2 linked regions of the Homo sapiens genome follow. The protein of the gene in region 1 interacts with the protein of each later gene in a pairwise test. Each region holds a gene or a part of one and is shown on either strand. Other genes may lie near its edges.

Region 1 (7,024 bases):
ATGTGAGGAAACCAGGCACACAGCAGCCAGCCAGATACTCTAGCAACCAACACTCAACAGCGTGCTGTGCAGGTAGGTGTGTGTGTGTACATGTGTGCACGTGCATGCGTGTGATCTCATCTGTGGCTGAGGTCCTCAGGAGGTAGGCCAGCGCCCCGTAAACGAGGGATGTTCCAACACAGGCTTCTGACTAAGCATCATTCAGGATGCAGGGAGAAGGTGGCCTCTGGGCTCCAGCAGCCGGCTGGGGTCCAGGGTGGAGGACAGGGAAGAACAAGGGGCTGAGGAAAGGAGGCCAGAGCTTCATGTTTGCCCAGGTGAGGGCTTACTGTCCTGCAGCAACATCCCACAGCTGGCTCAAGTTCTGGCCAGGAGAGTAAGGGGTCACAGGGAAATACAATGCTGGGCCCCTCTTGGAGGGAGAATGGGAGTGGAATGTGCGGGCTCAGGTCCAAATACCAACTCAAGTCTCCTGATGGCTGGGGACACCCTGGAGGGCCAGATGGCTCTGCCTTTCTGAGCTCCAGGTATTGGGGAAAACCACCCTGCTCTGGCAGCCACGGGAGTGCAGCTGGTGTGAGAGGGGAAGTGCAGGTAGAGGTGAAGGCCCACAGTTGGCTGACGGGCACTGAATACCACATCACCTCTCACCTCGACCCCAGAGTACCCTGTGTATGCTCCACCACAGGGAGCTAATCCCTGCAGTAATTTCAAATGGCTTCTAAGAGAGGGCCAGCCCTTCCCAGATTCCTAGATGGGGCAGGCTGCCCTCCTACCTCTCACAGCACCAAGATGACAAAGACCCAAGACCTGTCCCTGCCACTGGAGGGGCTGTGGAGGCAGGAGTTCCAAGGAAGTGAGGCAACAGTCAGGGAAATAAATTAATAAATACAGGCCCCCCACGAGGAGCGGCTGGGAAGGCTGCTTTGCCTCTGAACACTGCTCCCTGCTTTCCACTCCAAGCAGCCCCGCAGGTTTTGGTGAGGGGCAGAGGGGCTGCAGTTTGGAATCGCTGGAGCATTCATTCACTTGGGACAGGCTTCCAGAACTCAGAGTTTGCGTTCCATACGCCGTTCCACGGCTCGAAGCAACAGTTCTGAGTATTGCTCCAGCAGGGCCTGTGTCTGCTCGGCTCCCACAGCCCCAGGGCTGCTGCCTGGGCTGGACAGCACTGCCCCAGCCACAGCTTCCAGCTCCTGTCGCACTGAAGAGAAGGTGTCTCTGAGGAGCTGGGCAATCCGACTTTGCTCTGCTGAGGGCATCTTGCAGCCAGCCACCTGAAATAGCACCCCCAGAAGTGAGGTGGAGGAGCCTGTCAACAGACATATAAAAGGGAGGGGCCCCACCTGGGTCCAGCCTGCCTCAGAAGGGACTAGCTGGGAACTCTACCCGCCAAGATCAGCATGTATGGCCAGGGAACATGGGATGCAGGCAGACTCTGGGGGTGACGCCCAAGGAGGAACCCATTGGATTGCAGAACCGTCTACATCTTATAAGCAACTCCTTATGACAACTCCGGCAGAATCTGCTTTCTCTTTCAAAGTTTGGGCCTTCTTGGACTGTCCCCTATGTCTAAGGGGGCCAAATAATTCATGGATATGAAAAAGGATGCCATTAATAATTACACTGGGACAACGACATAAACTGGGATTGTCCTGAGCCAACTAGGAGGTGTGGTCTCTTCAGGCCTCACCTCCTGAGGGAAGTCTCCAGCTCTTAACCAGAAATGACCGCAGGTGCCCGGTACAAGAGGCTAGCCTGGCCTCTAACCCCCTCACCTATGCTGCCCAAGATGTTCTTGAGTGTGCCATCCTGTCAGCACAAGAGGCTTAGCATACTGTTCTGGACATGGTTATCCGAAACACCCAGCACTACTGACGTGCCCGCCTTCCTGCCGGGGGGCACCTAACACCCACCGAGTGGTAGAGCCGCACTGCCTGGCGCACGCTGCCGCGGAGCTCTGCCACCAGCTGCTCACACTGCTCCAGGCTCACCGCTGGCTCTGAAAGAGACGGATACAGCTCAGTGAGGCCCAGCATGTAGCCCTTTCAGGCCTCCGCACCCAAGACACTCAGAACAGGAGAGACCTAGCCCTCAGCATTGCACCCCCCACTTGCCCTCAGTCCCTTCCTCTTGGCTTCTCTTCCAACGGCCTCCCCAACACCACACAAACAAGGTCCAGAGGAGACGGCCAGCCCCAAGTTCAGAAGCCACTGAATGGGCAAGTGAGTCACAAGGAAATCATGAAGGTTAGCAGGAGGGTCTCACCATCAGGGGTGTGACTTACGGACCTGCGACAGGAGCAGACAGGACAAGAAACACCAGAAGCTGTACCCACAGAAATGGGATGGAGCCAGACAGCGGCCAACAGAGAGGGGAGAGTAAGGATGGGGCAGGAGATGAGAGCTGGGGAGCTGTGCACACCTGAGTCCTGGCTCAGGGCTGCCCCTGGCTTGGTGCATTCCATGGGGTTGGGAGTCTTCTCAGGGGGTGGGGGCTGCAAGTTTTCAGGGCCTTGGAAGAGGCTGCTGACTGGCAGTTGCTGGGCACAGGGGCTGCTGGGCCCAGGATGAGCCTGGCACTCTGTCCTAGGCTTGGGAGTGGTGCCCTCCCCCAAACAGGCCCATCTCTCAGTTGTACTGTGAGCTTTTCCTAGGCCCACCGGGAAGCCAGGCTTTTCTGCCTCGCCAGGGGCCCGGCCTTTGGTGACAGGAGAGAATGCAGCCAGGGTAGGACGGTCAGGCAGTGGTTTGGGGATGTCCAGGACCAGGTGAGCCCGGCTGGGCAGGGCCAGCTTGCTGAGTGGTGAGACTCGGATGGGGGCATGAGCTTGAGGTTCAGCCACCAGGCCCAGGTTCTCCCCAACAGAGATACTGCGGGATATCTTGGCCATGGAACTGGTGGTGGGGTTCTGATAGGAGTGAGGCCGAGACGGACGGCCATCAGCTGGGGGCAGGGAGCCCAGACCATCCTGAGCTTCGATCTCCCGAGACAGCAGTGCGCCTGGTGAAGGGGCCTGCAGACTGGCCTCATGTCTTTCTGCAAAGGAGACAGAGGTATACACAGGTCAGGTGTTGAGGAAGGCATCCCAGGTGCCAACACCCAATCCCGAAGAGCTGCTGTTCCCCTCCACATGCCCATTAAGGGACACCTAGTGGCCAGCACAGTGGCACATCAGGGCCACACCAGGCCCTCCCTCCTCCAGCATGTACATGTGTTCCATACACCCTGCACCCTGGCACTGAACCCATCAGGCTTCTCACCCTGTGGCACCAGACTGTGCACAGACTGGGCCTTCTGGAGTCCAGAAAAGGGGCTGGCTGTGGCCACTCTCTTGGGAGCCCAGCTGCTGTCAGGGTTGAGACGGCATCGTGGCAACAGCACAGAGGCTGCCTGCTGGGGGCTGGGGTTGCCAGAGGACGGTTCCACCTCCGGGGGTGCTCCAGGGGGATTGGCACCATTGCCTCTCGGCTGCTCACCAGATGCCTGTGGCACCTGGGCTGGTCTCGACATCAGTGCCAGGCTTGAGGAGGATGGGGATGGTTCCCTACAGGGAGAACATGTGGGAGAAGGCCCAGAGAAGGCTCAATGCTCCTCCCTGCCAAAATGGCGAGAAACTCATAGCACCAGGGCACTAGGAGAGAACAAGCACAAAGCCAGATAGGGCTGGGGAAAGGCCAGTTAGCCCAAAACTGGGAGTGCAAAACACCCCGCGCATGGAGAGACAGAACACTGGAGAGGAGAGGGCAGCAGCCCTGGGAGGCGAGGAGAGCCAGAGCTGCTGCTGGGGGGTAGGGGGCCTCTGTACCTGAGTGGGCGGGTCTGTACTTGCAACAGGAATCGTGAAGAGATACTCCGAGACTCTGACCTCTCTGGGACCTGCACTGGGGCCCCTACCAAGGTCAGAGAAATCATGAATTGGGGCAAAAACCAAGCCCTTGCCCCAGATTTTGCCTCCTTGAGACCCCCAGCCACAGCCTATACCCTGGGACCCTCCTCTCAGGTAGGCAAGGAGGGGAGAAGGGCAAATTGCAGGCACTAAATGCTGGCCCTCTGACCACACCTGGAGCAGCTCCACTGGCCAGAGTCTCAAAGTGCTGTTTTAGAAACTGCTCCTGGTCTGGAGTCTGGGGGCTGCCCTCCTGTAGCCCATAGGGGCCCATGCCTCCCTCCTCTTCTTCCTCTTCTTCATCACCCTCAGCTGGCTCTTCAAGGTCTGAGGAGATGCCATCCACACTGAGGGGCTCCGTGCTCTCAGAGTCTGGGTGTGGGGAGGGGAGAGAGGCATCGCACTGCACCCATCTGTTGCCAGAGCCTCCCCACCCACCTCCAGGCCCCACCCCCCATGGCCCCTCCCTCCAGGCTACAGCCTCACCTTCAGTGGGGTGCTCCGGGCTGGAAAGGCAGCTGCTGCTGTAATCCACAGAGCAGGCACTGTCAGGGCTGTGCTTTTCTGAGCTCCTGCTGCCTGGGTACACTCTTCCCAGAGTTCCCCGGGCTGGAGCCTGCACTTGGAACTCACTGTCAGGATTCCAGCAGGGAGAAGAAAAGGCAGTGAGCAGGGGTAGGCAGCAGCCCCGCTGGACTCCTGCCTGTGATCAGGGTGAGGGATGAGGCAGTGGTGAGCTGGAAGGAAAGCCCTGAGTATCCTGGGGGCCAACCCTCCCTCGACTAAAGAACACTCATAGGGAGGGGAAGACGGGGGCACGGGGTCTGGCTAGGGCAGGATCCTTGCCTGGTATCCATGGTGGGGTTGTCACTCGGCTCCGGGTAGACAATACCATCTTCAATGGGTGCAGGTTCCAGATCTTGGGCAAAGACCCCTTCCTCTTGTGACAATAATCGGATAATATGGGGATAGGAACAAGGTTGGGAAGCCTGAGGCCGAGGGGGCTTTTCATTCTGGGAACACACAAAGGGATGTTAACAGAGCAGAGGTGACAGATGAGGCAGTGGTAGCTGGGGGGTAAGCCCTGAGTATCCTGGGGGCCAACCCTCCCCTTGGAGAAGAGGTGGAGGTGAGTAAGGATGCGGTGTGCACTCATTCAAGGGGAAGCTGAAGGACAGACATCGAGAAGCCAGGCTGGGCTCCAGTTGCTGATGTGAGCTTCTGGATGAACTATATTAGCACTCTGGGCTGCCAACCTCCAGCTACCACTTAATACCAAGAGTCCTCCAAGAAACCCAGCCCAGGGCAAAGGCCACTTTTGCCTCTCTACCCCAACCCCTCCCCTGCCTATCCTGATGACCAAACCATACAGCCCAGCCACCCCCATCCTGGCTTTGCAGTTCAGGTTACCCATGTGCCACAGGGGCAGAGCAAGCATAGCTGGACCAGTGCTCAGGTCCCAGCTGGTGGCAAAGGCTGCCTAAGGCCCCTTGGAACTCTCTAGAGAGCTGGGAGAAAGCAGGCTCACCTGGCTAGTGAGTGAAGTCTCAAGGGCCTCCTGCCCATGCTTCCTGGGACCAGATGGGATGATGGCCAGCGAGTCCTGGCTAGGGTCCTGCAGGCTTGGGGCCAGTGTTTCCAGCTGCCGCAGATCCAGCATGGATCTAACGCTCAGTTCCACACCTGGCTGAACCCAGCGCCCTCTTCTTCTGGGTCCTGGGTTGGCTGCAGGAGCTGGGTCCAGGAACCCCACGGACTCCTGTGCCTGGTGGGAGGTAGGGGGTGGGGGAGGAGTAACAACAACCACACAGTAAGATCAACAAATATCCACATATCCCTTACTATGTGCCTGGCACACTACACATACTAGCTTACTTCATCCTCACAGCAACCTTTTGAAATGGGCACTAGTATAATCCTTGTTTTACAGATGAGGAGACTGAAGCACAGGGGGCTTAAGTGAGCAGTCTGCGTCCCACAGACAGTAAGTGGCCTGCAGATTAGTCTGGCTCCAGAGTTCATGCTCTTAGCTGCATTCCGCATCCTCTGGCACAGGAACCCCTAGTCTCAGCCTTCACCTGGTATCATGGATGCCTCAGAGCTGGGGGTCTCTAAAAGTCTCCTACTCTGAGGACAGCCCCAGCAGCAACCACTTACTACCAAGAGTCCCCCAAGAAATCCAGCCCAGGGCAAAGGCCACTTCTGCCTGTCTACCCCAACCACTCCTTTTGCCTCTCTACCCCAATCACTCCAATAGCTGGGGGCCCCAAAGTCCCCTCACAGCACCAAGGACAAACCTATAGCCCAGGCCTGAGACCCCTGGCCCGGTCAGGGTGCTCCAGAGACACCACAGCATCATCACTCTGTGAAACTGTTGCTGACAACGGAAGGTACTGGTGCTTGGGAACTTGCTCTGAACACCTTGATCCCCCTTTGGCCACCCCAGGGCAGTCGCTGAGTTATGGGTCCCCTCATGGCCTTTTCCCTCTAACTATTCTGGAAGTTCTCCGCTTACCTCCTAACCGGGATCTTTAGAACTGTTTCTCCAGATCTCCGCTCTTTGGATCCTTGATTTCCTGCATTTTAGTTCTAACTATCTGGCTTAGGGGTCCTTTGTCCTCTCCACCTTGAGCTCTTCTCTGATGATATTTACTTCCAGGCACCAGGCAGCTGAACAAGTGCCCCACCTCCCCAGTGCTGACTAACCCTGTGCTCCATCCACCCCAACTGGTCCACAGGAAGGAAATACCTGGGCTTTCTTCACCCCCGCACCCAGGACCAGCCCAGCTGCTTCAACTTCCCCGACAAGGCCTTCCTTGGACACACGAGTGCAGCATGTGGGCAGACCCCATGCCCCAGTACCCTACCAGGCCCAGAGAGCCCTGTTCTCACAGCTCCCTTTGCCTCCTCTAACCTTGGAAGAACATTTTAACAATGGCGACTCACCCGACTCATCTCCCAGTGGGACAGGCTTCGGGGCAAAGCTGGGCTGGGGACCGAGGCTAGACAGAAACAGGCAGTCAGAGGAAGTGTCTCCTGCCCCCCCCCCGCCACCCAACCCTGGAGCCCTGGCCCCATCAGCCCATACCCTGTGTGGCCACAGTGATGCCTCAGTTTCCTCAGCTCACACTGCTC
Region 2 (7,024 bases), on another chromosome or scaffold:
GTAACCTGTGGAGGTGTGTACCTTGTGGAGGTGTGGATCCTGTGGCAGTGTGTACCCTGTAGAGGTGTGTACCCTGTGGAGGTATGGATTCTGTGGAGATGTGTATCCTCTGGAGATGTGTACCCTTTGGAGCTATGGATCCTGTGGAGGTGTGTACCCTGTGGAGGTGTGTACCCTGTGGAGGTATGGATCCTGTGGAGATGTGTACCCTGTGGATGTAAGGATCCTGTGGAGGTGTGTACCCTGTGGAGATGTGTACCCTGTGGAGGTATGGATCCTGTGGAGGTGTGTATCCTGTGGAGTTATGGATCCTGTGGAGTTGTATACCCTGTGGAAGTATGGATCCTCTGGAGGTGTGTACCCCTGTGGAAATGTGTATACTTGTGGAGGGGTGTACACCTGTTGAGGAGGGTATACCTGTGGAAATGTGTACCCTGTGAAGGTATGGACACTGTAGAGATATGTTCACCTGTGGAAGTGTGTACCCTGTGGAGGTGTGTACGCCTGTGAAGGTATGTATATCTGTGGAGGTGTATACACCTGGGGAATGGTGTTCACCTTTGGAGGTATGTACACTGTGGAGGGGTGTACTCCTGTGAAAGTGTGTATACTTGTGGAGGGGTGTATACCTGTTGAGGAGTGTACACCTGTGGAGGTATATTCACCAATGGAACTGTATACCCTGTGGAGGTGTGTACACCTGTGGAAGTCTATACTTTTGGAGGGGTGTACACCTGTGGAGATGTGTAGCCTGTGGAGGTATGTTCATCTGTGGAAGTGTGTACCCTGTAGAAGCATGTACCACATGGAGGGGTGTACCTCTGTGAAGGGGTGTACACTTGTGGAAGTATGTTCACCTATGGAAGTATGTACCCTGTGGAAGTGTGTTCACCTGTGGAGGTATGTTCACCTGTGGAAGTGTATACACCTTTGGAAATGTGCACACCTGTGGAGGGTGTACCCTGTGGAGATGTGTACACCTATGAAGGGGTGTACTCTGTGGAGGTGTGTACCCTGTGGAGGTATGTACTCTGTACTCTTTGGAGGTATGTACCCTGTGGAAGTGTGTACCCTGTGGAGGTGTGTACCTCATAGAGGTGTGTACCCTGTGGAGATATGTACCCTGTAAAGGTGTATCTGGCCCACAGAGCTGTCAGCAGGGACCTCACCCCTCCTCTGCCTTTATGTGGGGCGCCCCTGAGGACATCCTCAAGGAGATCAGGAAGACTTGGCTGAGTTTTTACACCCCAGGAAGGAGGAGCTGTATTATCATCCCATTTTATAGATGAGGAAACTGAGACTCAGAGAAGTTAACCTGACTTGCCCAAGTTCACTCAGCTAGTATATTATGCTCCCCAGGATTCCAACCCGGGCTTCAAAGCCAGCATGCTGAACCATTACGCTACACGGCCCCACCTTGGTAACGCCTCAGCCTCCCTGCTCAAGCCTGAAAGGTGGGTGGGGGCGACGTTGGAGGTTTCCTTGGGAGGGTCTGTCCCTGCCTCCCCTGTGGGCAACTGAATCACAGGGACAGACAGGCCTGGGGCACCAAGGGTCCTCCCCAGGCTCTCTTCACGCTCCCTGCTGCCTCCCACCTGGCGGCCTCCTACCCACTCTTTATGAGTGAGGTGGGGACGGCTCAGTTCCACCTTAATGGTTTCTGTTGCTGGCTGCGGCAGCATGTTTTACGAGGGGTGGGGCTCGGCCGGCCGGGTGCTGGCCTGTAGCCCCACCCAGGGCTCCACCCGACAGGCTGCTGGGAGGGGTCCCCTGGAGCAGCTCGGCAATTATGGGGGTGGCAGGGAAGGACCTGGGGGCTCTGCCTGAGGCTTGGGCACCCAAGGAAACTCGGGGTCTGGGAATGCCAAGAAAGAGGGGGTTTCTAGCTCCTTTCTCCCCATCAATGTTGGAAGTTCTGAGGGCAAAATTCTGGCCTCCCTGGCTCTTAACCCAGCATCAGTTTCGGAAAATGGGTTGCGTGCCCCTGCCTTGAGATCTGACTCAAGTACAGAGCAGGTAGGGACAGAATGGGCAGGGAGGGGAGTGGGGAGAACAAAGGATGAAAAGCCACCATGTCCCCCAGGTGACGCTTTCCTCCATGTGAGCCACCGACACCTGCAGCTGAGTCATTCCAGTCCCCAAATCAGGCTTCTCCTAAAGACTCTTCAGCATTCCCATGTGCCTCTGGAAGCAGGCTGGTCCCAGAGCATTGCCTAGTACGCCCATCCTGGAAAAGCACTTGAGCCTTGGGCCGACCTGGAGGTTCTTCCAGATCTCTAATCCCTATTTATTGTAATCTTAGTCCTCTTGTCCTGTCCTTCCTGCCATTCACCAAGCCACCCACCAGAGCCTCTTTAAGGGCAATAGACTCATCCCTTCTGCAGGGAGGGTCCCAGCTTTGCTTCAGATGCCTGACTCCAACAGCAACCAGTCTCCCACTCTCCTTTGCCCAGCACCCCTTCCTTTTCGCCATCCCTGGCTGCCTCTGGGCACCTTCCCGTCTCTCCAGCCCCTCTCTAACCTCTGCCACCCAGCCATGGCCCCAAAGGAGCCAAATCCAAGCACTCACAGTGGGCTCTGGGTCATGGCCACCATCACCGCTTCGGGGAGTCATTCAGCCTGCAGCTCCCCAGGAGCCTCCATCGAGGTATAAATACTCCCACATGCCTGGACCGGCCCCCTGCCCGAGGGCTGAGGCGGGGCTGTCTCCCCAGGCCAGGCAGGCAGGTCACATGCCCCATAAATGCCACAGGACCACAGGCCCTTCCTAGCAGCCCTGGGGAGGCCAACTAGAGCCTGACCTCTCTGGATGGATGGGTGGATAGATAGATGTATTTATGTATGTAAAGATGAACAGTTGGATGAATGGACAGATCATCGGATGGAGAGATTGATGGATGGAAAGCTGGACAGATGGACAAATCAACAGACAGATAGATGAATGTTTTATTTTTTTATTTTAAGTATTTTTATTTCTGTGAGTATCTGTAGTGTAAAGGATGAATATTTAGTGGGATAGATGGATGGATGTCCTTGACCTACCCGTGAATGTTTATTCTGGTTTTTTTTGTTTGTTTGTTTGAGACAAAGTCTCACTCTGTCACCCAGGGTGGAGTGCAGTGGTGCAATCTTGGCTCACTGCAACCTCCACCTCCTGGGTTCAAGCGATTCTCCTGCCTCAGCCTCCCAAGAAGCTGGGATTACAGGCGGGCAGCACCAAGTCTGGTTAACTTTTGTATTTTTAGCAGAGATGGGGTTTTGCCATGTTGGCCAAGCTGGGGATGTTTATTTTGTAGATGGAAAGAAAGGGGTGTTTGGTTTCAAGGAAACAAGAAATGCTACCCCTCAAAGCTTCCATCCATTCCTTTCTGAGACATACCTACTAGGACCCCTTCTCTCCTCTGCTAGTCTGAGAGATCAGCCCTACTGGGTTCTTCCTACTCCTTAGATGCTCCTTGACAGAGACCTCCCACCTAAGCATCCTCGGCCTCCAGGGATCTTTTGCTCTTACTTGTGGGTGTCATTCATGGTCTGCCTCCTCCACCCTCCTGCCTCCCTGGCTACTCTGGAGTCCAGGCTCTGAGGCTGGGAGCCTACCCCAACATCTTGCTCCCAGAAGCAAGGTCAGCAAGCTTGCCCCGCCAAGGTTAGTGGGGGAGGGGAATTCCCAGTTCCAAAAACATAAAACCCCCTTGGACAGGCAGTTTAAGGAGAAGGTTCTCCCACCTCCACCTTCCCCAGGTTCTAGAGATGGGGTCTTGCTTTGTTGCCCAGGCTGGTCTCAAACTCCTAGGCTCTCGCCTCAGCCTCTGGAGTATATGAGACTAAAAGTGCATGCCACGGTGCTCACCTATTCCCAGGGATTTTTTGAAGCCATGGCTGAGTCTGATGGTGAGAACTGGCCTGACCTAGGACTTGGAGGTGGACAAGGTGGCCTAGAACCACTCAGGGCTTGACTGGAAAGCTGGACTTTTGAGAAGGAGGAACTTGTTGCCTGCTTGATCCTTCCAGGGGGCAGTGTTCAGAAAGCAGTGATCTGAGGCCTTAGACATTGGTTTCTAGAGAAGAAAGTTCCCTGAAATCCTCAGTCTGCCCAGCTGTGATAAGGGCCAAAGAATGGCTGATGAGGTGGGGCATGAGTGAAGGACCAGGAGGCTTTTGCACAGATTGTGAAGCCTTGCCTTCATCCCTCCTCAACAAGCTTCCTCCAGCTACACTGGCTGAAGGGGATGGAGAAATGGGCTGGGGTATGGGATGAAGTGGCTGACCTCTAAGCACTCATTAGCTCTGGGTCCCTGTGGCCCGGAAGTCCTACCCCTGTAATGAAGTCACCCAGGGCTGAGCCCGATGGTCCCACCCCCAGCCTCCTGTGGGCTGTGTAGGTAATTGGCTTTGGAGTTGTTGGGCTGTGGCAGTGATTGGCAGCAGAGGATTTGATCTGTGAGACCAACAGGGATGTTGGAGCTTGGTCTCACCTCCCCCGTAACCTGGCGTTATAATCTCTGGACGCCTTCACTGAGCCCAGATCCTGGCTTCCCTACAGAATCCCCCTTTTCCCTCACAGTGAGTCCTCCCGACCAAGGACTGCAGGAGGGTCCTTTCCCAGCTCTGCTCTCGGTGTGGGCTAGTCATGAGAATAAACCTTGTTCCCTCCTTTATAAAATGGAGTCCTCATCTTTGCCCTACATACCTCATCTGGCTGTCCTGGGGACCGAGTGAGAACCAGAATGTCAAAATCCTCAGAAGTTAAACCAGCACCAGCTTGTCTGGTGCCCCTGCCTCCTCCCCTGGGGTCCCAGGCCTGTAGGATTTCAGGAGTGGGATGGGGCTGAGTGAGATCTTTTTACCTTCAAACATCTGCCCTTCCTAGGGGTGTGCCCCAGGGGGATGGTCAAGAGGGCCCTCGTCCTGCTGGTGCGCTCGCTCTTTGCCTGTCCACCTGAGTGGGGGCAAAGAAATGGCCCAGGATCCCACTGTCCGTTGGGCCAGGGGCCTCTCACATTCTGTACATATCATTATCAGAACTGCTCATTAATACCAATCTATTATTAAGGATATTAATTCTGCCACCACTACTAATAATACAGATTTAGTACAAGGCAAATACATACTGGTGCACCTCCTCTCCCAATGCCATCTTGCACAGGGGATGGGCAGGTGGTTATCTCCTTGAACTTACTAAGCCTTGAAGTGAGAAGTGCACTGGGAGGCCCTCCCACCCAAGCCCCTCTTTATCTGACAGATGGGGAAACCGAGGTCCCACCAGTGGGAGAGATTGTTCCCTGCTATGCAGGCATCTGTGCGCTGCTCCTTCCTCCAGGTGCTGGGGCTATGGGAAGCAGCTCTCAGCACCTAATCATGTCCCTGGAGAAGGGGCAGGCTCTGGGGGCATTTTCCTGAGCCCATCCAGCTCCTTGGCTCCAGCTGCCATCTTTCTCCCTTGACCACCCTCAGATCATACTGGATTTGGCATTGCCACCCCAAATAATTTTTTCTCCAAAACCCTTCCCACTTTAGGCAGATTGACCACGCTTGCGGGAAGGCACAGAGAAGCAGAGCCACCTCTATGAAGCCACATGCTCTTGGTGCCCAACGTGGGCTCCAGGAACCCTCTCCAGAGGAAGCTGGGGACACTGCCCCCACTGACAGTGAAGACTGCTGTGGTCACTCTGGGCCTGCGTGGAGGAGGGGTGCTAAGTGCAGAGTCTGATAATTGGGTTTTCTGATCACAGCGATGTGTGTGTGTGTGTGTGTGTGTGTGTGTGTGTGCGTGTGTGTGCGTGTGTGTGTGTGTCCTTCCTCATGTACATTCTATGCCTTCCGAGACTGATGGGCTGGTGCAGTCCGGGACATGGCTATGGAATTTACAAGTGTAAGTGGGACCTCCAACTGTCTCCAGGCAATCTGGTTCCAGGGATGCACCCCATTCTCATTCTGTGTGTGTGCGTGCGCGTGTGTCTGTGTGTGTCTCTGTGTGTGTCTCTCTGTATGTATATATGTATGCGTGTGTGCATGTATGTATCTCTGTGCATGTGTCTGGGTGTGTGTCTCTGTGTGTGTGTGTCTCTGTGTGTATGTGTGTCTCTGTGCTGTAGTTTGTCAGAGGCAGTGGGGGGAGCCCTGAAGGCCCCGGAGGGTGTATGAGGGCAGGATTTGGAGCTGACTGACAGTGCATCCTCCTGTGAGCATGGGGTGGAGGGCGAGGGTCAGACCTTGCAGTGGGCTTTCTGTTGCATTCTGGAAGGGGATGGGAGGATCTGGAGGGTTGCCTACCCCTGGAAGCTTCTAGAGTAGCTGTGAGAGCACAGGTTCCCTTTTCTCCATGACTCACAGCTGGCTCTCCAGTCAAGTTCCCCAAGAGATCACGATTCAGCGAATTCTCTCCCTGGCCCCATTAATCTGAGCTGACTAAGCAAGGGCCACAGGCAGGGTAGAGACCCGGGGATGCGCACTCCTAATCAACCCTAAAAATCCCTGCTCCTGCTTCCATGCCCCCTCTTCCTTGGCCCGCCATGCCTGATAGGATCAGTTACGCTCCCAGCCCCCTGAGAAAGCCTGCCCCGGCCCCGCTTTGGGGCTCTATGAGGGTGTCTCTCCATCCCCGCTTCACTGCCACATGCCCGCAGTGTGGAGGTCTGTCTGGGCGCCAGCCCTCCACTTGTCTTGTTGCATCTGAACTCATTTTTACTGTTTGGTGAGCATCCAGCCTTTACGGCCCAGATAGGATGAGGAAGCTAAGGGCTGCTCCAGGGATGATCTTGTCCTGCTCGTTTTGTCTATTGGCATGGCTCTGGGCTTTTCCTCAATGCTCAGACAACCTGGGGGACACCCCAGAACCTGGCGGGGATGCTGGTGAGGGGTGTTAGACTCCAAGGGAACCTGTGACATAGGAGGAGATCCATCCTGAGGAATGGAGCAGGAGGTGGAGATGGGGATAGGAGTGTGGTTGGAGGTGGGAGTGAGGAGATGAGGTAAGGAGGAAGGAGCAGGATGGGGTGGTGGTGATGGAGGCAAGTTTGGGGAC

Evidence for each region.
Region 2: the proteins of MAPKBP1 (region 1) and FOXN1 interact in binary tests that used the Homo sapiens proteins (3 or more experiments, as listed by UniProt).

The regions. Positions count from the first base shown.
Region 1 is NC_000015.10:41,819,462-41,826,485, reverse strand, and holds part of MAPKBP1 (mitogen-activated protein kinase-binding protein 1), read right to left. Parts: intron 6,892-7,024; coding exon 6,836-6,891; intron 5,655-6,835; coding exon 5,418-5,654; intron 4,903-5,417; coding exon 4,736-4,902; intron 4,522-4,735; coding exon 4,376-4,521; intron 4,262-4,375; coding exon 4,064-4,261; intron 3,894-4,063; coding exon 3,809-3,893; intron 3,548-3,808; coding exon 3,264-3,547; intron 3,040-3,263; coding exon 2,425-3,039; intron 2,003-2,424; coding exon 1,917-2,002; intron 1,278-1,916; coding exon 1,050-1,277; 3' UTR 1-1,049. UniProt on the Homo sapiens protein: Negative regulator of NOD2 function. It down-regulates NOD2-induced processes such as activation of NF-kappa-B signaling, IL8 secretion and antibacterial response. Involved in JNK signaling pathway.
Region 2 is NC_000017.11:28,509,326-28,516,349, reverse strand, and holds part of FOXN1 (forkhead box protein N1), read right to left. Parts: intron 1-7,024. UniProt on the Homo sapiens protein: Transcriptional regulator which regulates the development, differentiation, and function of thymic epithelial cells (TECs) both in the prenatal and postnatal thymus.